6 separate regions of the Homo sapiens genome follow, and regions 1, 2, 3, 5 and 6 are each linked to region 4. Evidence: fine-mapped expression QTL. A gene starts in region 4. Each other region holds a variant in brackets. All regions are shown on one strand. Distances are from middle to middle.

Region 1 (5,169 bases), 31 kb before region 4:
ATGGGTCTTGACTCTTTATCCAGTTTACCAGTCTGTGTCTTTTAATTGGGGCATTAACCCATTTACATTTAAGGTTAATATTGTTATGTGTGAATATGATCCTGTCATTATGATGTTAGCTGGTTATTTTGCTTGTTGGTTAATGCAGTTTATTCATAGTGTTGATGGTCTTTGCAATTTGGTATGTTTTTGCAGTGGCTTATACTGGTTGTTCCTTTCCATGTTTAGTGCTTCCTTCAGGAGCTCTTGTAAGGCAGGCCTGGTGGTGACAAAAATCTCTCAGCATTTGCTTGTCTGTAAAGGATTTTATTTCACCTTCGCTTTGAAGCTTAGTTTGGCTGCATATGAAATTCTGGGTTGAAAATTCTTTTAAGAATGTTGAGCTGGGCGTGGTGGCTCACGCCTGTAATCCCAGCACTTTTGGAGGCTGAGGCGGGCAGATCATGAGGTCAGGAGTTCGAGACCAGCCTGACCAACATGGTGAAACCCCGTCTCTACTAAAAATGCAAAAATTAACTGGGTGTTGTGGCGCACGCCTGTGATCCCAACTACTCAGGAGGCTGAGGCTGGAAAACTGCTTGAACCCGGGAGGTGGAGGTTGCAGTGAGCTGAGACTGCACCACTGCACTCCAACCTGGGTGACAGAGCAAGACTCCATCTCAAAAAAAAAAAAAAAAAAAAAAAAAAGAATGTTGAATATTGGCCCCTACTCTCTTCTGGGCTTGTAGGGTTTCTGCTGAGAGATCTGGTGTTAGTCTGATGGGCTTCCCTTTATGGGTAACTTAGTCTGATGGGCTTCCCTTTATGGGTAACCTGAAGTTTCTCTCTGGTTGCCCTTTACATTTTTTCCTTCATTTCACCCTTGATGAATCTGACGATTATGTGTCTTGAGGTTGCTCTTCTTGAGGAGTATCTTTGTGGTGTTCTCTGTATTTCCTGAATTTGAATGTTGGCCTGTCTTGCTAGGTTGGGGAAGTTCTCCTGGATAATATTCTGAAGAGTGTTTTCCAACTTGGTTTCATTCTCCCCATCACTTTCAGGTACACCAATCGTGTAGATTTGGTCTTTTCACATAGTCACATATTTCTTGGAGTCTTTGTTCATTTCTTGTCACTCTTTTTTCTCTAATCTTGTCTTCTCGCTTTAATTCATTGAGTTGATCTTCAATCTCTGATATCCTTTCTTCTGCTTGATCGATTCGGCTATTGATACTGTGTATGCTTAATGAAGTTCTCTTACTGTGTTTTTCAGCTCCATCAGGTCATTTATGTTCTTCTCTAAACTGTTTTTTCTAGTTAGCAATTTGTCTAACCTTTTTTCAAGGTTCTTAGCTTCCTTGCATTGGGTTAGAATACGCTCCTTTAGCTCGGAGGGGTTTGTTATTACCCACCTTCTAAAGCCTGCTTCTGTCAATTCATCAAACTCATTCTGTGTCCAGTTTTCTTCCCTTGCTGGTGAGGAGTTGTGATCCTTTGGAGGAGAGGAAGTGTTATGGTTTTTGGAGTTTTCAGCCTTTTTGTGCTGGTTTCTCCCCATCTTTGTGGATTTATCTACCTTTGGTCTTTGATGTTGGTGACCTTCAGGTGGGCTCTATGAGTGGACGTCCTTTTTGTTGATGCTGATACTATTCCTTTCTGTTAGTTAGTTTTCCTTCTTACAGGCCCCTCTGCTGCAGGTCTGCTGGAGTTTGCTGGAGGTCCACTCCAGACCCTGTTTGCCTGGGTATCAACATCGGAGGCTGCAGAACAGCAAAGATTACTGCCTGTTTCTTCCTCTGCAAGCTTTGTCCCAGAAGGGCACCCGTCAGATGCCAGCCAGAGGTCTCCTGTATGAGATGTCTGTCGGCCCCTACTGGGAGGTGTCTCCCAGCCAGGATACACAGGGGTCAGGGACCCACTTGAGGAGGCAGTCTGTCCCTTATCAGAGCTCGAACGCTGTGCTGGGAGAACCAGTGCTCTTTTCAGAGCTGTCAGGCAGGGACGTTTAAGTCTGCTGAAACTGCGCCCACAGCACCCCTTCCCCCAGTTGCTCTGTCCCAGGGAGATGGGAGTTTTATTTATAAGCCCCTGACTGGGGTGCTGCCTTTTTTTTTTAGAGATGCCCTGCCCAGAGAGGAGAAGTCTAGAGAGGCAGTCTGGCTGCAGCGGCCTTGCTGAGCTGCAGTGGGCTCTGCTCACTTTGAACTTCCCAGTGGCTTTGTTTACACTGTGAGGGGAAAACTGCCTACTCAAGCTTCAGCAGTGGCGGACGCCCCTCCCCCTACCAAGCTCAAGCATCCCAGGTCAGGGTCAGACTGCTGTGCTGGCAGCGAAAATTTCAATCCTGTGGATCTTAGCTTGCTGGGCTTTGTGGGGGTGGGCCCCGCTGAGCCAGACCACTTGGCTCCATGGCTTCAGCCCCCTTTCCAGGGGAGTGAACGGTTTTGTTTTGCTGGCATTACAGGTGCCACTGGGGTATGAAAAAAAAAAAAAGCTCCCGCAGCTAGTTTGGTGTCTGCCCAAATTGCCGCCCAGTTTTGTGCTTGAAACCCAGGGCCCTGGTGGGGCAGGCACCGGAGGTAATCTCCTGGTCTGCCTGTTACGAACACTATTGGAAAAGTGCAGTATCTGGGCTGGAGTGCACTGTTCCTCCCCGTACAGTCTCTCATGGCTTCCCTTGGGTAGGGGAGAGAATTCCCCAACCCCTTGTTCTTCCTGGATGAGGCAATGCCCCACCCTCCTTTGGCTCACCCTCCGTGGGCTGCACCCACTGTCTAACCAGCCCTAATGAGATGGACCAGGTACCTCAGTTGGAAATGCAGAAATCACCCACCTTCTGTGTAGACCTCACTGGGAGCTGCAGACCAGAGCTGTTCCTCTTCAGCCTTTTTTTTTTTTTTTTTTTTTTTTTGAGACGGAGTCTCATTCTGTTGCTCAGGCTGGAGTGCAGTGGCACGATCTCGGCGCGCTGCAACCTCCGTCTCCTGGGTTCAAGCAATTCTCCTGCCTCAGCCTCCCAAGTAGCTGGGATTACAGGTGCCGGCCACTATGCCTGGCTAATTTTTGTATTTTTAGTAGAGACAGGGTTTTGCCATGTTGGCCAGGCTGGTCTCAAACTCCTGACCTCAGGTGATCCGTCCGCTTCAGCCTTAACTGGCGTGAGCCACTGCACCCAGCCAGTTACCCATGACTTCTAAACACTTTAACACTCT[T/G]TGCATATATGCTGTTATAGTAGCTGCCTCGTGTAATATAAGCAGATTAAGGATGTCCTTAACTTGGCAATACTCTAAAATTGCATATATGGCAACATCTAATTTATCTAGGGAATGATGAGTGCATTTCCTACATATATTTAAGCACTAAAACTTAAATTACTAGTTTTGATGGAAACGAGTTTCAAGCATTACATAATATGTACATTGCCTTTCAAGTGATCCGGGTCTTTACTTTGAATATATTCTATTGTTGTATATCATGAAACTGACCCCTTTAGGAATTTACGAGTTGTGTGTGGCTAGCTGCCTAGACCCTAATGGATCCAGAATGCTCGGAGTCTTCTGCTTTTCCCATTTACTCATATTGATCTCTGATCTGCTGTTTTGCTTTATATGTAGTTGTTTTGTCCCATGGTTATGGGGCATTTTTATCTCCCTTCTGGACTAAAGTGCTTGGACTGTGAGCTCTCAGTCACTCAGAAGCCTTTCAGACCTACCTCCAGGGTTATCTTCCAGATGGTTGAAACAGCGAAGAATTGGTCTGTGAAGAAACTCAGAAAGATACTGCTAAATCTAGGCAGATTAAAGACAGAGGGTCTACTGCCAACTCTAACATATCAGAATTCTCACTAAACGCAAACATCGCCCTCCACACTAAAGTTATAGCTTAGCAAATAAGTTACTGACGTAGGGTGATTCTGTGAGTGTGTACTGTTAGCCCAGACTTGTACAGCATGGGAGAAAGAGAATTTAACAAAAGAAGTTATTTTTCAATGGGAAAAAAGCTCATCATTTTGAAATCTCTTAAAATAATTTAGGAAATTATTTCAGGGGAAATTTCTTGACTTAGGGTATAAAGTTAAATTTTATTTGTAATATAATTAGTGATCTTTTTTCTTTATATATAAAATAGACTAAAAGTAAATTCCTGTTATCAACTATCCATTACTAAGGGGTTAGCTCTAGGAATATTGGATAACCAGCATACAGTTAAAACCAAACTTACTCAGTAGTCAGTTGAAAGGTATCCTTTATCTTTAAACATAGCCATAAAACCTGGAACTGAGCAAGGGGGAAAAGGATGACCTGTGTGTGGCCAACAACTGTTACCAAACCTGTGCATTTAAGGGCTCAGGAAACTTGCCTGGTTTTCCTTGCACATCATTGGCTGTCCCTTATTCTCTGTTGCTAGTCCCTCCTCTCCGCTTGCTCTGAACAGTGCGTGCCGTAGAAGTCAGTCCACGGACCTCTTCTCTTCTGTAGTTGGTTTCTCCCTTGGGAATCGCATCCAGTCTTATGGCTTCAAATACCACCTACCTGCTGTTCCTCTCTAGCTCAGATGTTTTTCTTCTATAATCCACATTTATATATCCAACTGTCTCCTTCACATCTCCACTTGGATATCCATTAGGTACCTAGAACTAAAGTCTGAAATTAAACTTTCTCATCTTCCCTCAAGCTTACTTTTCAAACATCTCAGTAAAGGGTGACTCCCATTTAGCAATTCCTCAGGGCAAAATCTTGACTCCTCTTTGCCACACAGAGCTCAACCTTCATATTCTCTGGGATCCTCTTTCATTCTGTAGACTGTGGTTTCTGTATGTGACTAGACTTTTTGAGGATAACAACCCTTCTTCAGCAAAACAATTTGCTCTAGCATTTGGTTACACACACACACACACCACAATTTGATTTCTATATTTTTCAAAAATGTTAGTAACATGTAATTCTCTAATAACATCATCTTTGGCACTGATTCCATCTAGATTGGAATTTCATATGGTGAAACCGTGATGATTTCATGCAATCCAGTGATGTTCAAAGTAAGATGGCACCAAATTTCACATACATGGTGTTGGCATGATTTCTATCCAACCAAATACCTGTTGACTTAATTCATGACTCAAAACTGTATTAGAAAATGTGATAGACCCATTTGCTAATGCTTCAATTAAAAGAAAGGGCCTAATTCTAAC
Region 2 (5,296 bases), 150 kb after region 4:
GCCTAAGAGACCCAAAGGGCAGGAGATGTGTCTTGTTCTTTGTGGTAGTCATAGCACAACAGCACGAACTTTGGCATATTATATTCAATAATATTTAGTGAATGCAACTATCTGGAGATACCAAGTAGGCAATGGACAACATTGACTAGAATTGAGATTCCATCTTGGGTTGACATCTATGTATAAGTCATAATTAACATCATAAGCGTGAATAAGATCAACTTAGAAGGTTTGAGAAGAGGAGCAGACTTAAAGTTGAGCCTTACGGAATGCTGACTTTTAGGAACAGAGGATATTCAGAAGGAATAGTAAGAGAAGTAGGTTGACAATGAAGAGGTATCACAAAATGAAAGTGAGTAAAGAGTTTCAGAAAGAACCAAAGTGAACAGGTAAGAAAAGGACTGAACAATGCATTGTAGATTTGAGAATCAGAAGGGACTGCCAATTATTGCTTCAACAGTTTCAGTGGGATATTGGAGCAGAAATCTACTTGCAATGAATTGTGAAGTGGAGAAGAGGTCAGAAGGTGAGGCATTAGGCATAAACTGATCTTTCCAGAAAAGTGTCTTAGAGAGTGGTAGAAGGAAAACAGGGGCAGGGAAATGGAAACAGGTTTATAGAGGATGATGGAGAGTCAGCTGAAGCAACTCATGGAGTAAGTCCCTAACGAGATAGGAGGGAATAGGAGGAAAAGCCTGGCTGTGGAATGCCAATCATGAGGCACCAGCTCCACCATGAAGGCCAAGCCCTCCTCGCTGGTGAAAAGACTGCATGAATTGGCCCCTCCCTGCTACCTCTCAGCCTCATTTTTACAGCCTCATCTTTCTAGTTTTTTCTTTCAAAATTCTACTCTATTTCAATACTGAACCACTTGAAGTTCCCTGTTCATGTCATGCTATTTCATTGTGTCTTTGAACTTGTTTTTCCATCTGCCTAAATGACTACCCTTCCCTCCCCACCACCCCTAGCCCAAACTGGCTAACACCTGTTCATTCTTTAACACACTCTTCAATGCTATCGGGTCTTTCCATTCTCTTTGTTTATTGACCTTTAATAAACAGCTTTATTGAGATATAATAAATTTATATTTATATTGAGATTAAATTTACCCACTTAAAGTGTACAATTTCATGGTTTTGGTATTTTTACAGAGTTGTTTGACCATCACCACAACCAACTTCAGAACATTTCCCTCACCCCTAACAGAACCCATGCCCATCAACAGTCACCCTTCATTTTCTCTCAACCCCCGGCCCTATGCAATTCTGTTCACTTTTTGACAGTTAATTTCTAACTTAATTAATTTTTTTTTTTTTTTTTTTTTGAGATGGAGTCTCACTCTGTTGCCCAGGCTGGAGTGCAGTGGTGCCATCGTGGCTCACTACAACCTCCACCTCCCAGGTTCAAGTGATTCTCCTGCCTCAGCCACCCAATTAGCTGGGATTATAGGCACGTGCCACTGCACCTGGCTAATTTTTGAATTTTTTTTGTAGAGATGGGGTTTCACCATGTTGGACAGGCTGGTCTCGAACTCCTGAGCTCAAGTGATCCACCCGCCTCGGCCTCCCAAAGTGCTGGGATTACAGGCGTGAGACACCGCACCCAGCTGACAGAATTAATTTCTCCCTCTTCTGAGCTACATATGGTCTCAGTACTTCAACACAGATACTTCACACTGTATTACACTTATGTTTACATATGTATCTCCCGTTTTAGAACTGAGCACTTTGAAAATCCTCCTTTAGTAATTTTTCCCCATGAAATCCATCCCATTTCCACAGTAAAACATCTTTTCAAAACATGGAAGGCATTATACACAAATAGAATGTGTACAGAAGAATGTTAAGACCCTCAGAACTCCTCCACTCCTTACCTCAACACACAGAGTCAGCATTTAAATTAGTTGTTTAATCCCTGTCCAGCAGAACATAAAGAACCACCATAGACTGTAAACTAAGCATCTTCTCAGTGGCTTGTACTTTAACATAAATAAGCTGTTCCTTTATGTTCAAAAGTACCCTTCAGGGTCATCCGCAAGAAATGGAGGCATAGACAGACATGTCAAATATCACATCAGAGAAAAAAATGTTCTGCTTTCTCTGGTTGCACTCTTTCTCCACTAGCAAAGTGAACGTGGGCTCCTTCATGAAGAAGGATTTTAAATCTTGACTACTACATTCTCCAGATGTCTGCCTGTCATTATAATGAAGTTGTTTGTCAAATGGATTTACTCTTTCTGTGGATGTTTTAGCACCTACTATGTTAAATGTGTTCTGCTAGGTGTTGGAGGGAATTAAAAAACTAATCATTTTTCAGTTCTTGTCCTCAGGGAGCTTCAGTTGTGTACTTGAGTAAGATATCATATTCTTTGAGTTTGGCCCTCTAATAGGGAAGTCAAAACAATGCATTGAATTTGTGAACATCAAAGTCTTGTCCGATTTTGGAGTCTAATAATATACAGGGCTGATAATTTTATCCAGCTACATTTTACTATTGTTTTTCCCTTTGAGACGTAGACTGGGACACAGGCTTACATTTAAGGAGTTGGGTAACACTCATTCGAAGAGCTTTGATTTCTAAGCTTATCCTATGAAATATATTACATTCAGAAAGATTTGAGTACATTGTGGACAAATTCATAAGTCATTCTGCAATGTAGGTACTCAGTTTTTGCATTTATGTGTTCAAACATTTGGGGATTAAATCTTGAGTTCTTTTAAGTACTAAGAATGGGAGTGGTCTAAATTTGTTTGGATGTTCAAGCTTCTTTAGACAGGAAAATGTAGAGAATGCATTACCTCCTCATCTCAATCTGAGAATGGGAG[T/C]GGTCTAATTTTGTTTGGATGTCCAAGCTTCTTTAGACAGGAAAATGCAAAGAATGGATTGCCTCCTCATCTCAAACAGAAAGTCAGATTTCTTTATGATACATAAAGCTACTCCACCTTCCTCTTCCTGGTCCCCACATTTTCATCTTTGTGGCTGCCTCTCTGAGGGTGTTTAAGTGAGCTCTTTCTCCTTTCCTTGCCCCATCTCATTTGCATTTTGCCAAGGTCTTTCAACAAGTGTATAATCACTTTGATACTTGATTGGCATGCCAAACGTTTTCAAAGACAGATTTTCATTGTGTTGAAATACAGTGCCACACGTGGTTATTCTCTAGATTCTTTTTGGAAAAATTGTACACATTTTATCTATCCATACCTATTCAAATCCTTCATTTTGGTGATGGGGCATCTAGAAAAAATGCTGACAGCTTGAATACTGTAGTTAAGAGTAGTGTTTATCAAAAGCTCTGCACTGGCCTCTCATGCAGCATGGGTGCATAGAACCTTCCCTATAGCAGAATCACAGAGATTTACAGCTTCAAATAGAATCTTGTGTTCTCTTTAAGGTGTGGTTTGCTGCCCCTGTAAATCAACCAATTCCTATCTGAGTGTGACAGATGCTCTGACCTGCAGGATTTTATTGTTTTAAAAATCCATGACTACTGGAAATAGTAATGAATGGAATGTTAAACCTCAATGATCCTGTTGAAAATAAGCCTTTACTATCTTTAGTGGTGTTAGGAGTGGTCATATTTCTGATGCAGAATTCTTCTCAGAACCACATCTTCTAGCCTAGTAATGATTTACCTCTTCCAGACAGATAGATACCTGCAGTGGTCTATTCTTTCTGGGACTGATGTAGCGTCAAACATTGCATGCACCACTAATACTTAAACTGGCTGCCCTGTTGATGTTCCTGGGGAGATTCATCAATCATTAAATAAAAACCTGCTGCTACTCGTTGTATTTTATATAGTGTTACCTATACAAAAAGCAGCTTGTTGCAGTCAAAGCTTGCAATTCATCTGGTCTTGTAAATTTCAACTTAGAATCTGTGCTTGAAACCTCTGTTTTTCTGTCTCTCTTATTTCATGGTCCCACTACTCTCTTACTTCAGTTTTCAGCTTTCTGGGGGAAGGATGCTTGAATCTTTGAGATCCTCCCCCACCCTACTCCCAGCATTGAATCTCCTGCCCAACTGGTATGTAGCCTCTATTTTATTTTAGCCATCTCAAACTTACCATAAATCTGGTGAAAATCTGTTCAGCTATTTAAAATATTTAGTTAACAGAACCACAGAAGCTTAATTATACACACACATCTATGTATAAATGTATATGTGTATAAATATGGACTGTTACTAAAGTTCCATTGTTGAGAGTGTTTAGTATGCCTTTCAGAATAATTTTAATAAGTTTAAAATGGATCAGTTTTTAATTGCTTTCCTGCATATGAAGAGTCAGAAGTGTTTGGCACTTTGACATGTGAGCTCAAATTTCGTGTGACAGAGTTGAACTTGCATGGGTTCACATTTTAATGAAGTGTCATTGTGATGGAATGAGACTTGATTTCCAAGGAAAGGGAAAAGGAGGGAGTAATGATGCTTTGAGCAAAAGCATTGGCTTCTATTTAATTTCATTTCAACCTAATAGTAGATAAAGAATATGAAGAAACCAACTCTTACATGTATTTTTTTCTGGAACAGGAAGAGGGATAATAGAAAGATAATGGGGAAATTGCAAAGCCTGCTATAATTTGATAAGCCTCTTCCCTCTGTTTTTCATGCAGGATGAATCAATGAGACACATTTCTGAGGGCTGCCCGGGGGTCCTGTGTCTCAATCTGTCTAACACAACTATCACCAACAGGACGATGCGACTCCTGCCGAGGTAATGTTTGTGTTATTTGTATGACACTGAAAAAAATTATGCTCCCAAAGTCTCTGGCTTGCTCTAGCATTCTGCAAGGGCAGTGCTCCCTTTATCAACACCCCACCACTGTGGCACTGCTTTTCTGATAAGGGGTCTGCTGCTTTCAAGTCCCTAAGCTGGTGCCTGAACTGGTCTGCCTTGGCTAGCATTTTTGTGACTCTTACAGCAATGTGCCCAGTAGCTTGAGTTAGACTTTGCCTGCTTCTTTCTGGTCCCCCATTCTGGGCATTCAAGCTTTCTGGCCCTTACATTCCAGTCTGGTGTCTGGGACCTTTTTTTTTTTTTTTTTTTGAGACAGAGTCTTGCTCTGTCGCCCAGGCTGCAGTGCAGTGGCATGATCTTAGCTCATGGCAACCTACGCCTCCCGGGTCCAAGCGATTCTCATGCGTCAGCCTCCTGAGTAGTTGGGATTACAGGTGCCCACCACCACGCCTGGCTATTTTTGTATTTTTAGTAGAGATGGGGTTTCTCCATGTTGGTCAGGCTGGTCTCAAACTCCTGACTTCAGGTGATCTGCCCGCCTGGGCCTCCCAAAGCGCT
Region 3 (5,296 bases), 640 kb after region 4:
GAGGTCACCAACCCCGGATGGGTAGTGACCGCGCCCGGGCAGCCTACAGTCGTCCCCTTCCCCGCCGAGCGTCCCCGGTCCAATTCCGGCCCCCCCAGCCGCAGGGACCCCGCTCCCCGCGCCAGGCCCCCGCGCCGCCACACTCACCGGAGCTGCCCTCGCCCCGCCCGGCTCGGCTCCCGCTCGGACTGCGTGGCCGCGTGGCCTGTGGCCCAGTGGCCCGGCCGGGGCGCCGAGCGCGGCCCCCTCCCTCCTTCCGCCGGTCGCGCGGGGTCCCCCGGCCCCGCCTCCACCCCGCCCCCGCGGCCGCCGCAGCCGCTGCCAAGGCAACCAGGCGCCGCCAACACGTGACCCACCCGCGGGAGAGCCGCGGCCACGTCACCCGCCGGGCCGGGAGGGGCGGGGCTGGCGGCGCCTCCTCGGAGAGTGGGGGGGTGGGGGTCCCCGCCTCACCTGGAACCACCCCGGGATCGCGCGAGGGAGAGGAGCAGGGGAGGTGGGAAGACCCCGACCCGCGCGCATCCCTCCTGCCCCAGCTCCTGTCCCCGGCCCCAGCTCTGGGAGTCAAGGCGAGGCCCCCCACCGCCCCATCGGGGGTCCGGCTACCCACAGACCACGAGCTGGGCTTTCCCTGCCCCTGGGTCCGGGCGCAAAAGGGGAGCCCCAGGCTTGGCAGGGTGAGCCTCGGGGGGTGCCCAGCATTGGACGCTGGCTGCGTAGAGGGGCGGGGAGTGGGGACAGGGCGGGCGGGTGCAGGTGGGCAGTGGAGGGGAAAGGAAGGTGGGGAGGGGAGAATCCGTCTGGCCACGCCCGAGTTTTCACAGGATTTTTTTTTTTATTTTTTTGAGACAGGGTCTGGCTCTGTCGCCCAGGCTGGACTGCAGTGGTGCGATCACGGTTCAATGCAGCCTCGAATTCCTGAGCTCGAGTGATCCTCTGCCCTCAGTCACCCAAAGTGCTGAGGCTACATGTAGGCAGGAGCCACCACACCGTGGTAGTTTTTAAAAAATTTGTTTTTGTTTGTTTTTTGAGAGGGAGTTTTGCCCTGTCACCCAGGCTGGAGTGCAGTGGTGCCATCTTGGCTCACTGCAACCCCCGACCCCGGGGTTGAAACGATTCTCCTGTCTCAGCCTCCGAGCTACAGGTGCACGCCACTAGCCTGGCTACTTTTTTGTATGTTTAGTAGAGATGGGGTTTCACCATGTTGGCCGGACTGGTCTTGAACTCCTGACCTCAGGTGATCCTGCCTGCCTCGGCCTCCCAAAGTGCTGGGATGATACATGTGAGCCACTGTGCCCAGCCAAAAAAAAAAAAAAAAATTCTTTTTTTAGAGATAGAGTCTTCCTGTATTGCCCAGACTGGTCTTAAACTCCTGGCCTCAAGCAATCCTCTCTTAGCCTCTCAAAGCACTGGGATTACAGGCATGTGCCACAATGTCCAGCTAATTTTTAAATTTTTTAAAAAAATTGAGATGGGTCTTGCTATGTTGCCTCTGCTGGTCTCGAACTCCTGGGCTCAAGTGATCCTCCCACCTCAGCCTCCCAAAGTGCTGGGCATAGAGGCATGGGCCACCTTGCTTGGCCCCTGCCCAGGGTGTTGGATGGCACCATGAAGAGCTTGCACTGAGCTAATTGGGGGTTGCCACCCAGAGTGCACTGCCACTCACAGACCCAGCGAGACCCCTGGGGTCCCAACTTCAGTGCAGCGTGCTGTCCTTCTCATGCTGTTCGCAGACAGCAGCAAAGAGTTTCTGCTGTGCCCTGGCCCCTTCCACTCCCTACTGCAGGGAGCCTCTCACCTTTAACGGTGAATTCTCTGCGGTTTTACGAGCGAGGCAGTCAAACAGGAGCATTCTTTTCAGGAAGTGCAGCACATGAATAATTCACAGACAGACAAGATGGGTTCCTATCAGCCCGGCGGTGCCAGACGGTCCCTTGGAGTCCTTCCTCCATGCCGGGTAGGCTGCTGCGTGCCCTACATAGGATTTTTCCATCTGTCACAACAGCATTGGACCGTGACACATTTATCCAAACGAAGGAAAAATTCCACTCATGTCAGCCAGCCCACATTTTATGACAATTGGAAGAGTAGATGTTACGGACGCCAGGTTAAATCCATCTACACTTCGAGTTGTCTTTTACAGGCTACTGCTGACAGCCAGAATGAAACCAGGAGGACACTTAGTCTAATAAACCAGGTTTCCCCCTCCGGGTTACTGACCTAAAAGGCAAGTTAGGCCCTAACATGGACATAAGCAAATCCCAGGGTTCCTTACTGGCCCTCCTCCTGCCACCCCCATCAATGGCTATGGGTGAGGGAACATTTGAATTTCAGGGGTAAAGTCCTCAAAAAGCAATCATGTTATGGCTTTCCAACGTGGAGTTCTTGGTAAAATGAATCTCGGTGGCTCATGCCTGTAATCCCAGCACTTTGGGAGGCTGATCACCTGAGGCCTGGAGTTCAAGACCAGCCAGGTCAACTGGTAAAACCCCATATCTACTAAAAATACAAAAATTAGCCAGGCATGGTAGCGCACGCCTGTAGTCCCAGCTACTGGGGAGGCTGAGGCAGAAGAATCGCTTGAACCTGGGAGGCGGAGGTTGCAGTGAGCCAAGATCACACCATTGCACTCCAGCCTGGGCCAGAGAGCAAGACTCTGTCTCAAAACACACACACACACACACACACACAAAACAGGAAGAAAACACTTTGTAAACGCAGTAGTTTGCATCATAGATGAATGTGCTTTCAGCAAAGGAGTCCTTTGCTTGTTGAATT[C/T]TCACTCTTGCAGCGACTTCACTCATCCTTGAGAAAGCTTCCTGTGCCCGTTACTGATGCCGCCACCCCACAGGCATATTTATCCAGCATGCCCAGACAGAAGCAAAATGCAAGTTGTAATTGCCAGTGCTTTGCAGAGTTGGTTTCCTAACCAAACACAGAATAGCTTGCTTGCTTGCTTTTCTTTCCCTCCCTCCCTTCCTTTTCTCTTTTCTTTCTCTCCCTTCCTTCCCTCCCTCCCTCACTTCCTTCATTTCTTTCTTTCCCCTCCCTTCCTCCCTTCCCTCCCTTCTCTCCCTTCCCCCCCTTCCTTTCCTTCCTTCGTTCCTTCCTTCCCTCCCTTCTCTCCCTTCCCTCCCTTCCTTTCCTTCCTTCGTTCCTTCCTTCCCTTCCTTCCTTCCTCCCTTTTTCTTTCCTTTCTTTCTCTATCATATTTATGAGACAGAGTCTTGCTCTGTTGCCCAGGCTGGAGTGCAGTGGTGCCATCTTGGCTCACTGTAACCTCCACCTCCTGAGTTCAAGCGATTCTCATGCCTCAGCCTCCCAAGTAACTGGGATTACAGGCACGGGCCACCATGCCTGGCTAATTTTTGTATTTTTAGTAGAGACAGGGTTTCACCATGTTGGTCAGACCAGTCTCGAACTCCTGGCCTCAAGTGATCTGCCGGCCTCAGCCTCCCAAAATGTTGAGATTACTGGGGTGAGCCACCATGCCTGGCCTATAATAGCTCCTTCTTTTTGAGATGGAGTTTCGCTCGTCATTCAGGCTGGAGTGCAATGGCATGATCTTGGCTCACTGCAACCTCCACCTCCCGAGTTCAAGCAATTCTTCTGCCTCAGTCTCCCAAGTAGCTGGGATTACAGGCGCCCACCAAGTTTTTGTATATATTTTTTAGGAGAGATGGGGTGTCGCCATGTTGGCCAGGCTGGTCTCCAACTCCTGACCTCAGCTGATCTGCCTGCCTAAACCCAGAGGATGTTTCAGCTGTCAGCCCTGTCATCGGGGACCCCTCCTTCTACCAGGAAACCCTGTTCCTTGGCTCCAGTGAGTCTGCCTGCTTGTCCCCCCATTTTCTGTCCCCTCGATATGCGATTCTCAGGGTTCTGTCTGGGTCCCTCTCCTCTCTTTGCTCCTCCCTGACTGGTTTCATCTACTCCCATAGTTCCAAGGACCAGGGCAGCCTGACAACCCCATCATCACCTTCAGCCTTGATCTCTCTTCCCAGCACATATGCCTAGGGCCCTCCACTTTACCAGGCCCACAGCCGAATCTGTCATCTTCCCTCGCATTCCTGCCCCACCGCCTGGGTCAGCTGTCTCAGAAGGGTTCCCTCACCCACTCAGCTGCTGGCACCCATGAGTCCTCTCCCCATCGGGTCGTGACAATTCTCCCACCTCCACATTGCTGGACTCTCCCTTACTTCTCCCTGTCCCCACTTGCTTCTGCACTAACTCAGGCCACCATCACCTCTGGTCTGCATGGCAAGGCAGGAGCCCTGTCCCCTTCCACAAACTCAAAGGTCCCCCATGTCTCTCCATTCCAGCCCCTACCCTGTGGCCTTTGAGACTCCAGTCCCCTGATTAACAGGGTCTGAGGCCATGGCAGGGCGCCTCCTCCCTCCCCAGCTCGCTTTCTGGGCACTCTTGTTCTCCTGAGCCACCTGACTTCAGCTCAGCGCTCGCCTTCGCAGAGGCCTGGGTCAGGTGCCCACACAGCAGGCTGTGCTGCTCTCCCCAATCCTGTTCCTGCTCAGACCTGGAGCCCCCTGAAGGCAAGGACTGTGTCTTGTCCACCACCATCCCCAGTGCCTAGCAATGGGCCTTGGAATCCCTTGGATTTTGCACTTAGTTGGTGCTCAATAAACATTTGCTATTTTTTTTCATTTATTATTATATTTTTTGAGACGAAGTTTCACTCTTGTTGCCCAGGCTGGAGTGCAGTGGCATCATTTTGGCTCACTGCAACCTCTGCCTCCCAGGTTCAAGCAACTCTCCTGCCTCAGCCTCCCCAGTAGCTGGGATTACAGGCACTGGCCACCATGCCCGGCTAATTTTTGCATTTTTAGTAGAGATGGGGTTTCACCATGTTGGCCAGGCTGGTCTCGAACTCCTGACCTCAGGTGATCCACCTGCCTTGGCCTCTCAAAGTGCTGGGATTACAGGTGTGAGCCACTGCATCCAGCCTTTTACTTCTGAGACAAGGTCTTAGTGTTACCCAGGCTGGAGTGCGGCAGCACAATCATGGCTCACTGCAGCCTCAATCTCCCAGGCTCAAGTGATTCTCCCACTTCAGCCTTGGAAGTAGCTAGGACTATGCCACTAGGCCAGGTGCACTTTTCAATTTTTATTTTTTAGAGATGTGGGGCTCACTATGTTGCTCAGGCTGGTCTTGAACTCCTGGCCTTAAGTGATCCTCCTGCCTAGGCCTCCCAAAGTGCTGGGGTTACAGGCAAGAGCCACCACACCCAGTGGATTTGTGACATTCTGTGGAGTAAGAAAACAAGAAACGGCCTCCTGG
Region 4 (5,296 bases):
TTCAAGATAACATTTGGGCCGGGCACAGTGGCTGATGCCTGTAATTCCAGCACTTTGGGAGGCTAAGGCAGGCACATCACCTGGCCAACATGGTGAAACCCTGTCTCTACTAAAAATACAAAAAAAATTCGCCAGGCACATGGTGTGTACCTGTCATCTCAGCTACTCCGGAGGCCGAGGCAAGAGAATCGCTTGAACCCATGAGGTGGCGGTTGCAGTGAGCTGAGATCATGCCACTGCACTCCAGCCTGGGAGACAGAGTGCGACTCCGTCTCAAAAAAAAAGAAAAAGATGAGATTTGGGTGGGGACACAAAGCCAAACCATATTGATGATGAAATGAGCATTTCTCAAGTCTTCTTCAATGATAAAGGAGTAGCTTCAGGAAGAAGGGACTGTGAGCAAATTATTTTTTAAGCTGCCTTACCTAAGATAATGATGATTATGGGAACTGTTAAGTTTAAAAGACTGTCCACATTCATCAGATTGAGTCAGTATAACTGAGAAGATATCTGAGTCCAGGACACCTTCCCAATGTACTTATACAAAAATATCTCTGACATGGGCAAAGACAACAAATTAGGCTTTGTAAATGCTATGATTTGAATGTCTCCTGCGAAACTCATGTCGAAACTTAATTCCCAATGTGGCAGTATTGAGAGGTAAGGCCTTTAAGAGGTGACTGGATCATGAGGGGTCTGTCCTCATGAATGAATTAATCCATTCATGGATTAATGAGCAGGACTGGTGGCTTTATAAGAACAAGAGACCTGAGTCAGCATGTTAACACACTTGCCCCTCTGGCCTTGGGATGCCCTATGCCACAACAAGAAAGCCCTTACCAGCTACGGCCCCTCAATCTTGGACTTCTCAGCTTCCATAACTCTAAGAAATAAATTTCTTTCCTAATAAATTACCCAGTTTCAGATATTCTATTATAAGCAACAGAAAATGGACTAATACAGTAAGGGTACATACAAATCTTTAAAAAAAAAAAGCTGAATTATACCTAGTGGCAAAAGTGAGAGAGACCTTCCCCTTCCACTCCCTTTTTCTTAAAGCATTCCCTCGTGCAAACTTGTAATTAAAAATCCTTTATTGGCCAGGTGAGGAGGCTCAATCCTGTAATTCCAGCACTTCGGGATGCTGAGGCAGGAGCACTGCTTAAGCCAAGTTCAAATCAGCCTGGGCAACATGGTGAAAACTCATCTCCTAAAAAATTGGAAAAATTAGCCAGGTGTCGGTGTGCACCTGTAGTCCTAGTTACTTAGTGGGGTGAGGTGGGAGGAGCCCAGGGAAGTGGAGGCTGCAGCTGTGATTGCGCCGCTGCAGCTGTGATTGCGCCACTGCACCGAGCCTGGGTGACAGAGGGAGTCCCTGTCTGAAAACAAAACAAAACTCCTTTTTCTGCTTCTTTGATACAAATGTAAATCTTTTTGTTTGTTTTTTGTTTTTTGAGACAGAATCTTGCTCTGTCGCACAAGCTGGAGTGCAATGGTGCAATCTTGGCACACTGCAACCTCTGCCTCCTGGGTTCAAGTGATTCTCCTGCCTCAGCCTCCTGAGTAGCTGGGATTACAGGCACCCACCGCCAAGCCCGGCTAATTTTTGTATTTTTAGTAGAGATGGGGCTTCCCCATGTTGGTCAAGCTGGTCTTGAACTCCTGACCACATGATCCGCCTGCCTTGGCCTCCCAGAGTGCTGGGATTACAGGTGTGAGCCACCACACCCAGCCTGTAAATCTTTTTAAAAGTGAAATAAGCATTTGGCCAGTTTTACAGCCCAAGAAAGACTTTCTTAAAAGCTTTGGAGCCTACTGTTCGAAAGCGTACTCTTTGAAACCTACTCTTCCAGGAAGATAGATCCCCAATCTCCCCAACTCTGTGAGTTTTTAGCCTGGGCACCTGGTTCCACATCATAAAGATATTTTTATTTTTCCTCTGGATAAAGGCAATTAGATAACAACCACCCCAATTACCAGTAAATTCAGGATAAACTACATGTAGCAAATGGTACTGTCAAGTCCTCTTACCTAAGGACAAATTATTTTTTATCTTGAGAACACGTATGTAATATGAAATCGGTTCTATCTGTCCAGCTACATTTAAAGGAATTAGAATTCTTCCTGCTATCCCATTAGCAAATTGCCCGTGATGTGTGAGGCAATTTAGTTTGTGCTTATTCAACAATGAAGCTGTTTAGCTCTCTTCTACAATTGTGGACAGGAGTTTCTTGGATGGCAGATATGATATTTTAAATTATTTCCCTAACAGCTTCCATGATGTGAAACATGCCTTTGGAGGGTTTTAATGTACCGATCAACTTTTGGACAGAAACCGAATCATGCATTTGTCCGCTGGGAGGGTGTGTCTCGCGCAGACAACTGTTCCCATTTCCAAAACACACACCAGGCTGCGAGGTCTTGGACCACTGTGACTCCCAGGTACCTCCCGTCTGAGGCCGGGCCGAGCGCCCGCACAACTGACCCTCTGACGTCCCTTCTTCCAGGGCACCTGCAAGCAGAGATTGACCTATGGCTCTGGGCCCCTCAACAGCCCTTCCACAATCGGGAGAATCCCTTTAGTTACACAAAGGCCCGGAGCAAGCTTTAAAATGAGAGGCCATCAACAGGTTTTTAAGAAATCTAATCCTCCGCTGTGACGCGGAGCTCAGGCAGGAAAGCCAGGGCAAGTTTTCATACCAGTATAGTCAGCAAAGGGGCGGCGGGGGCGGCGCAGCACCCTGCACTCACACAAGTACTGCCTCTCCCTCTAGCTCGGCTCCTCATTTTACCCCGAGCACACGCAAGCCACCACCCCGGCCTGGGGAGCCCCCCTGCCCAGTCCCCGCCCACCTGCCGGAAACCCCGGGGTCCCACCTGCGGACTTCGAAGAGCGTATCCCGAGCTCGCGGTCGCCCCGCCGCCGACCCCGGGTCAGCCTGTAAATGCAGTAGCAGGCGCCCGCGCCGAGCAGCAGGCCCGCCGCCACCCAGCCCGCGCCCCGGGGGCCACCCATGCTGCCGCCGCGGCAGAGCCGCAGCGCCGGGCCAGGGCAGGAGGCTCGCGGGGGCCAGCGCGGAGGTCTCCAGCGCACGCGGGCCTAGCCGCCACAGCAAACGCCACCTGACCTGGATGTGGAGAAAGGAAATGGGGTCTGAGCTCCGCCTCCCGGAAACGGCCTAGCTCAAAGCCTATAACCGCCCACTCCAGCCCGGCGCGTCCCGGCGGCTTCTCCCAGGCGAGGCGGGGCGGTGCGGGGCGCTGCACACCGGGAGGGGGGGGTCGGACGGTGCGCCCCACGCGGAGACGCCGGGGCCCGCAACCCAGAGCCGAGCTTCCCGTCTCTTCCCCCGGGGCGTGAAGCAACCATTCCTCCCTCCCGCCCCTGGCAGCGGAGCGCGGGGCGGTGCCACGCCCAGCCCCGCCCCCTGGTTGCCGGGACAACGCCCGCACGCGCCCGGCCCCTAGTCCCAGCGCGGGGAGGGTACTATCGCAGCTTCTCCGTCAGGCCTTGGGCCATGGCCTCGCTACGCAATGCCAACCCGAGGCTGAAGAACTACTTCAAGGAGAACTACATTCCTCAGGTCTGCGAGGTACTGGACACGCGTGGCAGCGGACACAGACCGTCGGTGGGGAGTTAGAAGGGGGAGGAGTCAGGAAAGACTTCCCGGAGGAGGGACTAGGTTTCGGGATTGGGGAGGAGTGGAGGGAAGGCGGGGCAGAATGCGAGAAAGTGAAGTCAAATTCGGACTTGTAGGCGATCAGGGCTGAAGACGCTGATTAGAGAGAAAACAGAGGGTGATGGTGGCTGCACGTGGGGAATGGGTGACATCTCCCAGGGGGAATGAGCACAAGGCCCAGATCGGAAACCCCAAACTCAGATTTTAAGGTTTGGACAAGAAGTACCTGAGGAGTGGAGGAGTGAGAAAGAAGTGCCAGAGAGCCTGAGGAGGAAAATCAGCAGACTGGCATTATGAAGAATGTTGTCAGAAGTAGGGAGTAGGCACTAGTCACCTAAGATAAGGAGCTGGATTCTGCCCAAGGTGAGCCTGAGGTTTCCATGGAGCCGTGAGGGCAGAAAATAGATGGAGGTTAGCGGAGGGAAGAGTGGAAGCTGAGACCTTTGGTCAGTGTAGTCAGCCCTTTGTGAAGGTAAGGACCCTCTCAACCAGGATTGCCTTTAGACAACAGGAAGGACTGCCCTCCTACTGCCGTTATAAGAGTAGGGAAGGAAGACAGGAAGGGGATAGACATTAGGTTTTGTAGGTTTGGGGGTAGGAAGCTGAGAACATTTGCCTTTGTTGACCTCTTTTTTTCTCTACAAATAGTTGGTGAGATATTTACCAAGAATGTGCGTGTTTGAGTGGGGATGGGGATGTTGGTGCAGTAGGAGGTTCGAGCAAAGATACGTTATGTGGAGAATGAGGGAGAGAGATGTCTAGGGAAAGAAAGAGGAGGTCCTACCTGAGGGTAGTAACGCTCCTAGGCGGTTGGGAGGGCAATTTGGTAGAGACCCCCCACCCGTCTCTTTTTTGGATGGTAATTGAGAAATATTTATTAAGATGTTAAATACATGTACCCTTTAACCAAGCATTTCTACTTCTAGGGATCTACTTTAGAGAAATACTTGCACATGTGTTCAGGAGGATGTACAAGGATATTCATTATAACTTTGTTTCATAGTAAAAATAGTAAATGACCTAGAGTGACTAAGCGAATGAGGCATTATGTAGAATAAAGTATATCTGTACCTACTAAGAAGAAATGTCCTCCAAGACATATTATTATTATCATCATTATTATTGAGACACGGGGTGTTGGTCTGCCACCCAGGCTAGGGTGTAGTGGCTCCATCCTAGCTCACTGCAGCCTCAAACTCCTGGGCTCAATTGATCCTCCCACCTCATCCTCCCAAGTAGCTAGGACTACAGGCATACACCACATGGCTGGCTCCCAACACATATTATTAAGTAAAAAAGAAAAAGTGCAAGTTGCTTAGCAACTGTCCATTCTGCTCTAGCTGTCCATTTGATTTCATATATGTTGTATATGTGTTTATGTACATATATGTGTATATATCTAGCTTTAAGACAATAGTGCATGCATAGAACCTATGCCAAACTGTTAATAACAGATGTCTTGTGGAATGGTTTTGGGGGAAAAGATGGAGAATTCTAACTTTTTACTCTGTCCATAGCTGTATTGTTTTAATTTATTACAGTGAGTTTTGTGTTGTACCTCTATACAATTGTGCTTGAAAATATGTAGGGAGAATGGTACCCATCTTCCCGGTTGT
Region 5 (5,296 bases), 81 kb after region 4:
GAGTGGTTAGTTAATGGGAACAAAAATACAGTTAGATAGAAGGAATAAGAGTTAGTGTTTGATAGTACAGTTGGGTGACTGTAGTTAACAATAATTTATTGTATATTTTAAAATAGCTGGAAGAGAAGAACTGGAGTCTTCCCATAAAAAGATAAATGTTGGAGGTGATTAATATCCCAGTTACCCTGATTTGATCATTACACATTGTATGCATATATTAAAATATCACGTGTACCCTCAAAATATGTACAACTATTATGTATCCATTTTAAAAGAGAAATTACTTCATGGTGTTCTAATCCAATGTTAAGAAAGATGGTGCAGATCTATAATAAAAGCATGAATGTTTTCCGCGGTCATTCATTTTGTGTCTGAAAGTAAAATCTCTAAGCAGTTATTGATGAATAGACATAAATGGCAAGCTTTCAATAACTATAAAAATATTCTAGTGCTGGTTGGAACAGAAGAATAAAGGGATAAGGTTTTGGAAAATCTTAAGGCTTCACGTTTTTTATGAACACATCATCTTTCTTTTTATGGATCTCTCGGTCTAGTAATTCTCAAATATATCAGTGAGCACTGTCTTCAACTATCAATATAATAAAATATAACCAATGGTAAGACTTAAAGAAATAAGGGCTATTTGTTTCATATTACACAATGTGCAGAGAAAAGCAGTCCAAGGCCAGTCATCCACAATACCAATAAAAATGAAGTCTTTCTATCTTGTTAGTCCACAGTCCTTAGGATCTTCTTGCTTGTCTTATGATTGCAATATGTCTACTCCACCTCCAGCCTCATGTTCTTTTACCAGGCCAGAGAGGGGAAAAAGCACAGTGGTAAAGGCAAGATGTTTGTTGATTTGTTTATGAGGAAATCCAAAGTTTCCCCAAATTCCCACAGTCAGGAATTTCATTGATGTGTTTTAGGTTAGAACTTTGTCACAAGGCCTTGTTAAACTGCTGGGGAGGAGAGGACTTTGGGTGGAGTTTGAGTGAGTTAATCAGTATAGTCTGTCTCACTGAATGTGGATTTGAACTACCAGTCATCAGTATCTAAAAGGGCATTTTTCCTTGCCAGAAAAGATGTTGTTTAGGTTGCAGTAAAAAGGCAAAACAACAACAAAGGAACAATCACAGCAGATAAGAAGTAAGCAAGTGTTTAATAAGTCATTATATCAGTGCTGCAAATGAACTCTGGTCTAATGCTCTTTCCTATCCCAGACCCCTGTGGTGAACAATTCAGAGAACAAAAAAGCCAACTACTGAAGAACCACAGCACCCACAGTCTAGCAAATCATTTCATAATGGGATCCAGGGCCTAGAAAAGCTTGTATATGGAAACAGCAACCATTATGACAAACTATGAACTTACATATTTTCTCAACAGCAATCTTTTAGTTTGACAATATATTGATTAAAAGTCCAGGCTCAGGACTCAGGGAGAACTGGGTTTAAATCCAGTCTCAACTGTTTACTAGCAATATGACCTTGAGCAATTTCAGCCCTCTTGGCCTTTGATCTTTAAAACTACCTCACCCCCATTTTCCCACCAAACCCTAAACTAATAGCAAAGAGTTTGGAATAATCTAAGTTTTAGGTTCACTTTGGGAAAACCATTTCAGAATATGGGAAATGTGTAGAATAATTGGGGAATGTTGCTCAGGACAGTAGAAATCATTGCCAGTTTTTGCATTTTAAAGATTACTTTCTGTATGGTGTTATGGTTTATGACTATGCCTTTATTTATTTATTTATTTATTTATTTATTTATTTAGACAGAGTCTTGCTCTGTCACCAGGCTGGAGTGCAGTGGCGCCATCTCAGCTCACTGCAACCTCCACGTCCCGGGATCAAGCGATTCTCCTGCCTCAGACTCCCAAGTAGCTGGAACTACAGGTGCACACCACCACGCCTGGCTAATTTTTGTATTCTTAGTAGAGACAGTGTTTCACCATGTTGGCCAGGTTGGTCTCAATTTCTTGACCTTGTGATCCGTCTGCCTCCGCCTCCCAAAGTGCTGGGATTACAGGCGTGAGCCACTGTGCCCGGCCTATTTTTTTTTTTTTTTTTTTTTTTTTTGAGATGGAGTCTCGCTGTCATCCAGGCTGGAGTGCAGTGGTGC[G/A]ATCTCAGCTCACTGCAAGCTCCGCCTCCCGAGTTCACGCCATTCTCCTGCCTCAGCCTCCCGAGTAGTTGGGACTACAGGCACCCACCACCACGCCCAGCTAATTTTTTGTATTTTTAGTAGAGATGGGGTTTCACCATGTTAGCCATAATGGTCTCGATCTCCTGACCTCGTGATCTGCCCGCCTTGGCCTCCCAAAGTGCTGGGATTACAGGCGTGGGCCACCGTGCCTGGCTGACTATGCTTTTAATGCCTTCTCTCACCCCAGCTTCCCCCATGCTCATGGGAAATAAAGTAGAGCCCTTTGGGGCCCAGATTTATAAAGTCTACCAGAGTGCTCAAACCATAGCATGATCAAGCTAGAAGACAGCTTAGAGATGTTTGTGCTAAGCTTTTACCTTTTACAAGAGGGACAGCTGTGGATCTGAGAAATTTTATGTGCGAATCTGAAAGAGCCAATCTCTCAAGATGAGTTTTGAGTACCTAACTGGGCTGAAATTTAAAATAGAGTCAGGTGGCCATTTGCTGACTAGAGCTCACACACATACTCTGAGTTCCCAGAAAACCTACACATCTGCTTAACTTTGGGGTTGTCATAGCTAACAGTTTCTGTCCACGTGGCCTGAACCAACCAATAGAGTGTAGCCTGCACTGACCAATCAGAAGCCAGCAGCATTGACCAATCAGAACTCTGCAAGTGTCAACCAATCAGAACTAAGCCAGTTTGAATTCTGTATTTGCATAAGAGGACCTGAGTGGAAAGCTGGGTGGGAATTTTAACTATAAAAGCGAAACCCTCCTTTTTTCTTTAATGTATCTTTTGTTTCCACTGAAGGGTTTGTCTTCCCCGTTTGGAAACTGTTCACTGGAATAAAGTCTCTCTTCTCGAAATTCCTTTTCAGATAACTTTTTTCACATCCCCAAAGTCAGACAACTACAAAACTGAGGGCAGGACCTGGTTTTTCTGTGTCCTTGGCTAAGCTTATAGCCTCTATATCTTTTTTTTTTCCTCTTGGAGAATTCTAAAGAAATAGAATATATATTAATATTTCATGAGACAAAAAGCAATAATTAAGAATATTATACATCTGTTTAGTTGTCCTGTCCTTAAAAAAACAAGGGTAACTTTTTTAAAGTTACTAAATCTTGATATGACAGAAAAAAAAGCCAGTATTATTTTTATAGATATCCTCAAAATTTCCCCAAATAATGTGCAGAATGTTCATTAAAAATGCACAAGTAATAAGAGTAGATTTATATAATAGCATATAAACATATAAGTTAATTATTCTAAGACTAATATCTTGAATGGTTGGGTTTGTTATGCTTATTAATGTATAATAGATTTGCAAAGTTAATTTTTTAAATCATACTTTTTAAATGGCATTTAATCTGGTTCACTAACTCAGGGACTTGAGAAGGAAAGGTGTGAAAACAAAAATGTGATGTGAATTTGGTCTGAACCTTATTTAAAATGGTTAGAAGTGTTAGTTTTTTAAATAAATTGAGGTTTTTTATATACAGGCTGTTTAATGTTTTGAAGGAATAATTGAAACCAGCAATTTGGATTGGGATACAATTTGAACTTTCTTAGAATACACATAACAAACTGTAGTCTTGCATTTTAGGTTCAGTTACATCAACTCATGAAAACAAGTCAGGTTCTGTTTTGCAACCATTTTTCTTAGTATCATTTACCCGTTAGGAAATGCTGCTTAGTTAGCAGATGGTAGGGCTCATACACTATCAGTCAAACTGTTGGCCAAACTTAGAGCTAGTGGGAGGGTTGGCAAAGACTGTTTTCCGTGAAAATACAAGTTTGGTTTTTTTTTTTCCTTCTGTGTAGTTTGGCAAGCAACACAGAGAAAAGCCTTATGCTGATGAATTTGGAAACTCTAAAATAGTTAAGTAATGCAGTTTCTTAAAATGTAAAATTACTTGATTAGTTTAATAATGTAAGTGTTGCTTTAGGGTTGTCTTCATTTTAAACAACTATGACTTCTTGTTTGTAAAAGATATATGTCATGTGGACTTGCAAACGGTTATAAAATCACCTTCAGATTTTACTGTGTTGATGACTCATTTTCTCACTTGGGGAAGAAAAGAAACATGGATAGCTATTAAAACTAGTACCATGTTGTAAAAGAGCCAGATGGTTCAGGCCTGTTTGATTAAATTACTTAGAATTACTTGTAAAACAAAAGAATATTCCCAGTGACTTTTCAGATCTATGTTTTGATAACCTCAGGGGTCAGTCTGACCTCATTTCACCAATGCAGACAGTGGTTCCAGGTTTCATAGCTGTGTACTGTGTGAACTTCAGATAAGGAAAGGTTCCACAACCACATTGCTCTATCAAGGAAGTATGTGGATATTGGCTCAAGTTGTGGTGTGGGTGAAAAAGCAAATGAAACAAAACATCTAGAAGTCACTTTGGGAACAGTTGATTTTTGGTGGAACATTGCTCTACCCATAGACCTCACTTTCATCACTTTAGTCTTAATCGCTGTCTCTGTTAAAGTGTTTACAGGCTGGGCGTGGTGGCTCATGCCTGTAATCCCAGCACTTTTGGAGGCACAGGCAGGTGGATCGCTGGGGTCCAGAAGTTCCAGAGAAACCTGAGCAACATGGCAAAACTGTGTCTCTATGAAAAATACAAAAATTAGCCAGATGTGCTGGCGTATGTCTTGTAGTCCCAGCTACTCGATGGGCTGAGGTGGGAGGATTGCTTAAGTCTGGAGAGGTTGAGGCTGCAGTGAGCTGTGACTGTGCCACTGTACTCCAGCCTGGGTGACAGAGTGAGACCCCATCCCCCTCCCAAAAAGGGAAAAAGTTTACAAGTGATTTTGATCTAAAGTTTTCATGACTTTTAAATTGCAGAAGCAGTTCTATTAATTTTAGCAGGACCACCCTTGCAAAATGATCTAGCATATGAAAGACAAAAAACTATACCCCAGTAAGAGGCAGCCACATGGAAATGGGGAGAATGTGCCCTGGAGTCTGGGTGGCCGCTTCTGTCACTAGCTGTGTGACAGCTGTGGCTGGGCATGCTGCTTAATGTTTCTGTTTCTAAATTGTCTCATTTGTAAAAAGGAGATGATAGAGAATTTAAGTTGACAGTAACAAGATGTGTTTGGAAAGGTGGGTTGGGTCTGCGTTGTTGAGGCCTTGA
Region 6 (5,296 bases), 43 kb after region 4:
TTTTTCTGAAGACTGCTAATAACTCAAACTCATACTTCAAGACTAAAGCCGCATTTGTTTACCTGCCAAAATAGTACCACTTTGTGGCAATACTTAAACTTTTAATTCGTTTTCCCACCAGCTTTGAAAGGAAATACCTCTCAGTAAAATTTTAATTTGAAAGATTGTGTTTTTTCAAAAACTGGCATAATGTAAGACTTTTGTAATATATTTTGTATCACATTAGTTTAAGTTTGCAAAATTTAAAGTCACATTAAATTTGATGGCCTTGTACTCTGTGTGCTGTACAGTAGTGGGGGACATGCTGAGAGGTGACAGTGTGCTGGCAGCCCTCGCAGCCCTCGTTCGCTCTCGGCGCCTCCTCTGCCTGGGCTCCCACTTTGGCGGCACTTTAGGAGCCTTTCAGCCTGCCACTGCACTGTGGGATCCCCTTTCTGGGCTGGCCAAGGCCGGAACCGGCTCCCTCAGCTTGCGAGGAGGTGTGGAGGGAAAGGCGTGGGTGGGAACTGGGGCTGCCCACTGTGCTTGCGGGCCAGCGGGAGTTCCGGGTGGGCGTGGGCTCAGCGGACCCCGCACTCAGAGCGGCCAGCCGGCCCCACTGGCCCCGGGCAGTGAGGGGCTTAGCACCTGGGCCAGCAGCTGCTGTGCTCAATTTCTCGCTGGGCTTTAGCTGCCTTCCCGTGGGGCAGGGCTCAGGACCTGCAGTCCGCCATGCCTGAGCCTCCCCCACACCGTCCATGGGCTCCTGTGCCGCCCTAGCCTCCCCTACAAGCGCCGCCCCCCGCTCCACGGTGCGCAGTCCCATCGACCACCCAATGGCTGAGGAGTGTGGGCACACGGCACAGGACTGGCAGGCAGCTCCACCTGCAGCCCCAGTGCGAGATCCACTGGGTGAAGCCAGCTGGTCTCCTGAGTCTAGTGGGAACTTGGAGAACCTTTATGTCTAGCTAAGGGATTGTAAATACACCAATCAGCACTCTGTCTCTAGCTCAAGGTTTGTAAACACACCAATCAGCACCCTGTGTCTAGCTCAGGGTTTGTGAATGCACCAATCGACACTCTGTATCTAGCTACTCTGGTGGGGACTTGGAGAACCTTTGTGTCGACACTCTGTATCTAGCTAATCTGGTGGGGATGTGGAGAACCTTTGTGTCTAGCTCAGGGATTGTAAACACACCAATCAGCGCCCTGTCAAAACAGACCACTTGGCTCTACCGATCAGCAGGATGTGGGTGGGGCCAGATAAGAGAATAAAAGCAGGCTGCCCGAGCCAGCATTGGGAACCCGCTGGGGTCCCCTTCCACACTGTGGAAGCTTTGTTCTTTCATTCTTTGCAATAAATCTTGCTGCTGCTCACTCTTTGGGTCCACATTGCCTTTATGAGCTGTAACACTCACCGTGAAGGTCTGCAGCTTCACTCCTGAAGCCAACAAGACCACAAACCCACCAGGAGGAACGAACAACTCCAGACGCGCTGCCTTAAGAGCTATAACACTCATCGGGAAGGTCTGCAGCTTCATTCTTGAGCCAGCAAGACCACGAATCCACCAGAAGGAAGAAACTCCGAACACATCCGAACATCAGAAGGAACAAACTCCAGACACGCCGCCTTTAAGAACTGTAACACTCACCGCGAGGGTCCGCGGCTTCATTCTTGAAGTCAGTGAGACCAAGAACCCACCAATTCTGGACACAATGCCTTTCCTTCACTTTGTATTGCACAAATAGTGCTGTGTGCCTCATAGGAGCAGTTCTTTTGGATTCTGCCTGCAGTTTGTTCTTCCCTAAGACTCAGACCCCTGATTCAGGTGGCAGAGACAGATGACATGTGGCTCCCCACCCCATCCCCATTCTTGTCTTTCTTTCAGAGCATAGGAAAAGAAAAAAAAGAAAAACAAAAACAAAAAACAAACAAAAAAACCTTTCTTAGTCTCTTGTCTGTCAAAAATATTTAAATTGACTTTTAGAACTCTGTGTGTGTGAGTGTGTATGTGTGTGTGTATGGGGGGATGGAGAGAGAGAGACAGAGACAGACAGACAGAGAGAGAGAGTCTCACTCTGTTGCCCAGGCTGGAGTGCAGTGGCACAATCATAGCTTGCTCACTGCAGCCTCTATCTGAGCTCCAGTGATTCTCCCACCTCAACCTCCCAAGTTGCTGGTACTATGGGTGCATGCCACCACACCC[C/T]GCTAATTTTTTATTTTTAGCAGAGACAAGGTCTCACTATGTTGCCGAGGCTACTCTTTAAGTCGTGAGCTCGAGGGATCCTCCCACCTCAGCCATCCAACGTTTTGGGATTGCAAGTGTGAGCCACCATGCCTGGCTGACTTTTAGAATGTAATATTAGACAGGCCCAGGTAACAGAATCCATTAGATTTAGGCCAATGTTATCCCACCTCCACACCTCATACTCATTAAATGTTGAAAATATAGAAAAGGAGAAGGAAAAACTAAAACTTTTTTTCTGTAGCTATTGAAATCCTCGCATCAACTGAGTTTGCAATGCAAATATATGGTCCTTGTCTGGATTCTAGTTTGAACAAACCGTGTAAGACATTTGGAGGCCAATTCCAGAGAGTTGGCTATGGCATGGGTACAATGATATTAAGCAATTACTATTAAGTGTCTAAGGCAGGATAATGGAATTGTGGTTGCAAAGAAAAGGTACTCATTTTTTAAGAGATGGATATTATGAGATTTGGGGGATGAAATGTCATGATGTCTTAATTTATATACTTTAAAATAGAAAAAGCAAGTATGGCAGAATGTTGACAATGTTAAACATGGATTGTGGGTATTAGGTGTTTATTTTATTTCTCTGTAAGTTTGAAATTTTAAATCTTATTTTCCTCCAACCCTGGCAGAGGAATGAAATTTTTTTATAAGCTATTTTTTTAGGACTGGGTTGTAATCATGCTACATATAATATCTTTTCAAAAAGAAATCAGTTTTATATTTCACTTCTTTTTCTCTCCTAATCTATAAAAACATGTTTCCTTGAAACTAGTGTGTGTGCTATTGTATGCTGCTGGAACTCAGCTTAAAATTTGGGACTTAACATTCTTCTGTCCCCAGTGTACATGAGGAATAAGACATACTCTTAGTCATAATAGTGACTAATCACAGCAGTAATTCCTAGAGAGGGTAAGAGTGGAGGGCTAAGGAATCTTGGGAAGTGAGCCTGGGTAGTTTACAAGTTTTGCAGTTGATTCCAACTGGCTTCTTGTAGGCCACTGGCCTAAAAAAGTAGTGTTAAACCCTAACTTAATACTATGAAAAATCTTTTGCAACGAATTCATTATTTATTTACACATTCCCACTCTTTAACTTTAAAAATCATCTCTTATGGTAGAATTTTTTCTTTTATTTCCAGACTAGAAATTAACCTTTCAGTGTACCTGGACTCTTAGAAATCGTATTGTGATGCACTGTCCATTCCTCCCTCACTTTGTTTGTAACTACGGGTGTCTGGGGATAGCAGCACTAGTGGTGTGAGTGTTATGTGAGGGTACTCTGAGGCCATCTGTAGCCAGCACTAACTTGCTGTTTATCCACTGACTTGCCCACAAAGTTGTTACCAGAATCCTTTGCCCTCCATTTGTGGTAGTCAGATGGTGGAGAATTGGCTTGCATTTAAGCAGTTTTCTAATTCTGTTGATGGATCAATACATATATATTTGTTGAGCTCCTACTCTGTGCAAAACACTGCCAGCTGGAATTAAAAGGTGAGAGGAAGAATATTTTTCAGTCAGAAGCAGTTAAACAATATGCAGCGACTGTGAAGGGTGGGAAGCCATTGGCTGGAGTGTGGATGGTGGAAACATAAATGGAGGAAGTGAAGCCATGTGACTAAGTGGTCCAGACATGTGCCCAGTGATTGGATTGGCCAGAGATTCCTTGGAGCTGCAGTGAAGTCAACACATGCCCACCCCTAAGTGGGGAATGGGGCATTACTGGGCTGGAGTCCTCTTGCATATTAGTCCCTTGGAGATGCTCTCTTAAACTTGCTTTTCCCTGTGAAGAAAAGAATATATACCAATAATAATAATAATGAAAAATTGTGAGTTTGTTTCTTTCTCTCTTTCCTTCCTTTCCCCTCCCTCGCTCCCTCGCTCCCTCCCTCCCTTGCAAACTGGGAGAACAATAAATGTAAAGTTAAAATAAAAATTTATGAAGAGAAACTCTTAAAAAATGAATATTAGAACAACAAAAATTCTGGTGTATTATAAATCATGAATTAATGAGGATTTAAATTACTTCTTTCAATAATAGAATAGAAAATGCTTTTATGCTGTTTTAAAGAGTTGATCATCAGAAAAGAAAACTTGAGTTCAAATGGTATTTGCTGAATTTTAATAATTCTTTTCAAAATCATTATTACTATAATGTTTTGAACTACATTCATTTGGTCATATAATATACTCATATTTTTATGACATATCATTTACTGTAGTTATTTATTTAGGACTTTTCAGGTAATATCATCTAAAAAGAATTAAGCTCATGAAATTTAGGGACCTACAACAGTACTGAAAAATTGTAATGTTAGTGAAATTTGTCTGCCTTTGCCACCTCATCCCCTTCTTGGTTTTTATTCTGCCTGCTGTAATATCCTCAATACTCCTTTACTCATCTGGATTCCTTTCTTCTATAAAAATCTGAATTTAGTGAAGAATGACTTGAATCGTTTATGTTGTCCCTCACTGTAGGCATAATTTGCATTTAATCTCCATCAAAAGTGAGGATTTTCACATGTCGGGGGTCCTATGGGCCTTTCTTGTATGCCTAAAATAAATCTATGATGAACATGTGTATGCCATATCTGTTAATTTAACAAAGTATTTACAGCAATGTGCAAAGGAGAAAACATTTGCCTTAGAAAAGTAGAATTCAGAATTCCTGGCTGTTGGTATAGATTTGAACCAAACTTACCTATACACCAAATAGATGTGACCATATGTTTGTATATCTATATAGTAAGCAAAGGGGCAACAAAATAAGAGGAAAACACCATTAACACTTAACAGTAGCCATGTGCATATAATACTTATGTTAATATAATAATATCTTTACTTATTAAAGAATGCACAGAAGGTATAGATGATTTCAGTTAGCTGTTGCCACATGTTATTGTGAATAGTTGTAAGTGATAAATTTGCATCTCTTTAAGCATATTCCACAGTTTAGACTTTTCATTTATGTGGTTTTCCTATTCCTGCTTGGTAAATGAGGAATTCCTCTATGTTGAAAAGAGAATCTCAGTTTATATCCTTGAAAAAAATCATTCTGTTTGATTC

The links. PIP is the estimated chance that this variant, and not a neighbour inherited with it, causes the effect.
Region 1: its variant is fine-mapped to the expression of ARMC10 in whole blood (INTERVAL, PIP 0.98).
Region 2: its variant is fine-mapped to the expression of ARMC10 in whole blood (TOPMed, PIP 0.99).
Region 3: its variant is fine-mapped to the expression of ARMC10 in spleen (GTEx, PIP above 0.99).
Region 5: its variant is fine-mapped to the expression of ARMC10 in whole blood (TOPMed, PIP 0.96).
Region 6: its variant is fine-mapped to the expression of ARMC10 in whole blood (TOPMed, PIP above 0.99).

Annotation. Positions count from the first base shown.
Region 1 is chr7:103,103,653-103,108,821 of GRCh38, reverse strand. All of the region lies in intron 4 of NAPEPLD (N-acyl phosphatidylethanolamine phospholipase D), which reads left to right. Among named protein-coding and RNA genes, the nearest start is that of ARMC10, 31 kb to the right of the region's middle. RefSeq lists an enhancer at 2,239-3,108. The variant T/G (reference allele first, on the strand shown) is at 3,191.
Region 2 is chr7:102,925,692-102,930,987 of GRCh38, reverse strand. It overlaps FBXL13 (F-box and leucine rich repeat protein 13), which reads left to right. Exons shown (of 21, transcript NM_001394494.2): 11 at 4,614-4,714. The region is part of intron 1 of LRRC17 (leucine rich repeat containing 17); the gene reads right to left. Among named protein-coding and RNA genes, the nearest start is that of LRRC17, 15 kb to the right of the region's middle. The variant T/C (reference allele first, on the strand shown) is at 2,826.
Region 3 is chr7:102,428,513-102,433,808 of GRCh38, reverse strand. ORAI2 (ORAI calcium release-activated calcium modulator 2) reads right to left here and starts at 234. Exons shown (of 4, transcript NM_001126340.3): 1 at 148-234. RefSeq lists silencers at 1-604, 635-774, 2,173-2,467. The variant C/T (reference allele first, on the strand shown) is at 2,779.
Region 4 is chr7:103,072,993-103,078,288 of GRCh38, reverse strand. It overlaps ARMC10 (armadillo repeat containing 10), which reads right to left and starts at 3,149. Exons shown (of 7, transcript NM_031905.5): 1 at 2,878-3,149; 2 at 2,408-2,512. The coding sequence starts at 3,016. It overlaps FBXL13 (F-box and leucine rich repeat protein 13), which reads left to right and starts at 3,493. Exons shown (of 21, transcript NM_001394494.2): 1 at 3,493-3,593. The coding sequence starts at 3,519. RefSeq lists an enhancer at 2,403-2,452 and a silencer at 2,723-3,562.
Region 5 is chr7:102,992,264-102,997,559 of GRCh38, reverse strand. The region is part of intron 7 of FBXL13 (F-box and leucine rich repeat protein 13); the gene reads left to right. Among named protein-coding and RNA genes, the nearest start is that of NFE4, 21 kb to the right of the region's middle. RefSeq lists an enhancer at 4,845-5,296. The variant G/A (reference allele first, on the strand shown) is at 2,125.
Region 6 is chr7:103,029,776-103,035,071 of GRCh38, reverse strand. The region is part of intron 3 of FBXL13 (F-box and leucine rich repeat protein 13); the gene reads left to right. Among named protein-coding and RNA genes, the nearest start is that of FBXL13, 42 kb to the left of the region's middle. The variant C/T (reference allele first, on the strand shown) is at 2,187.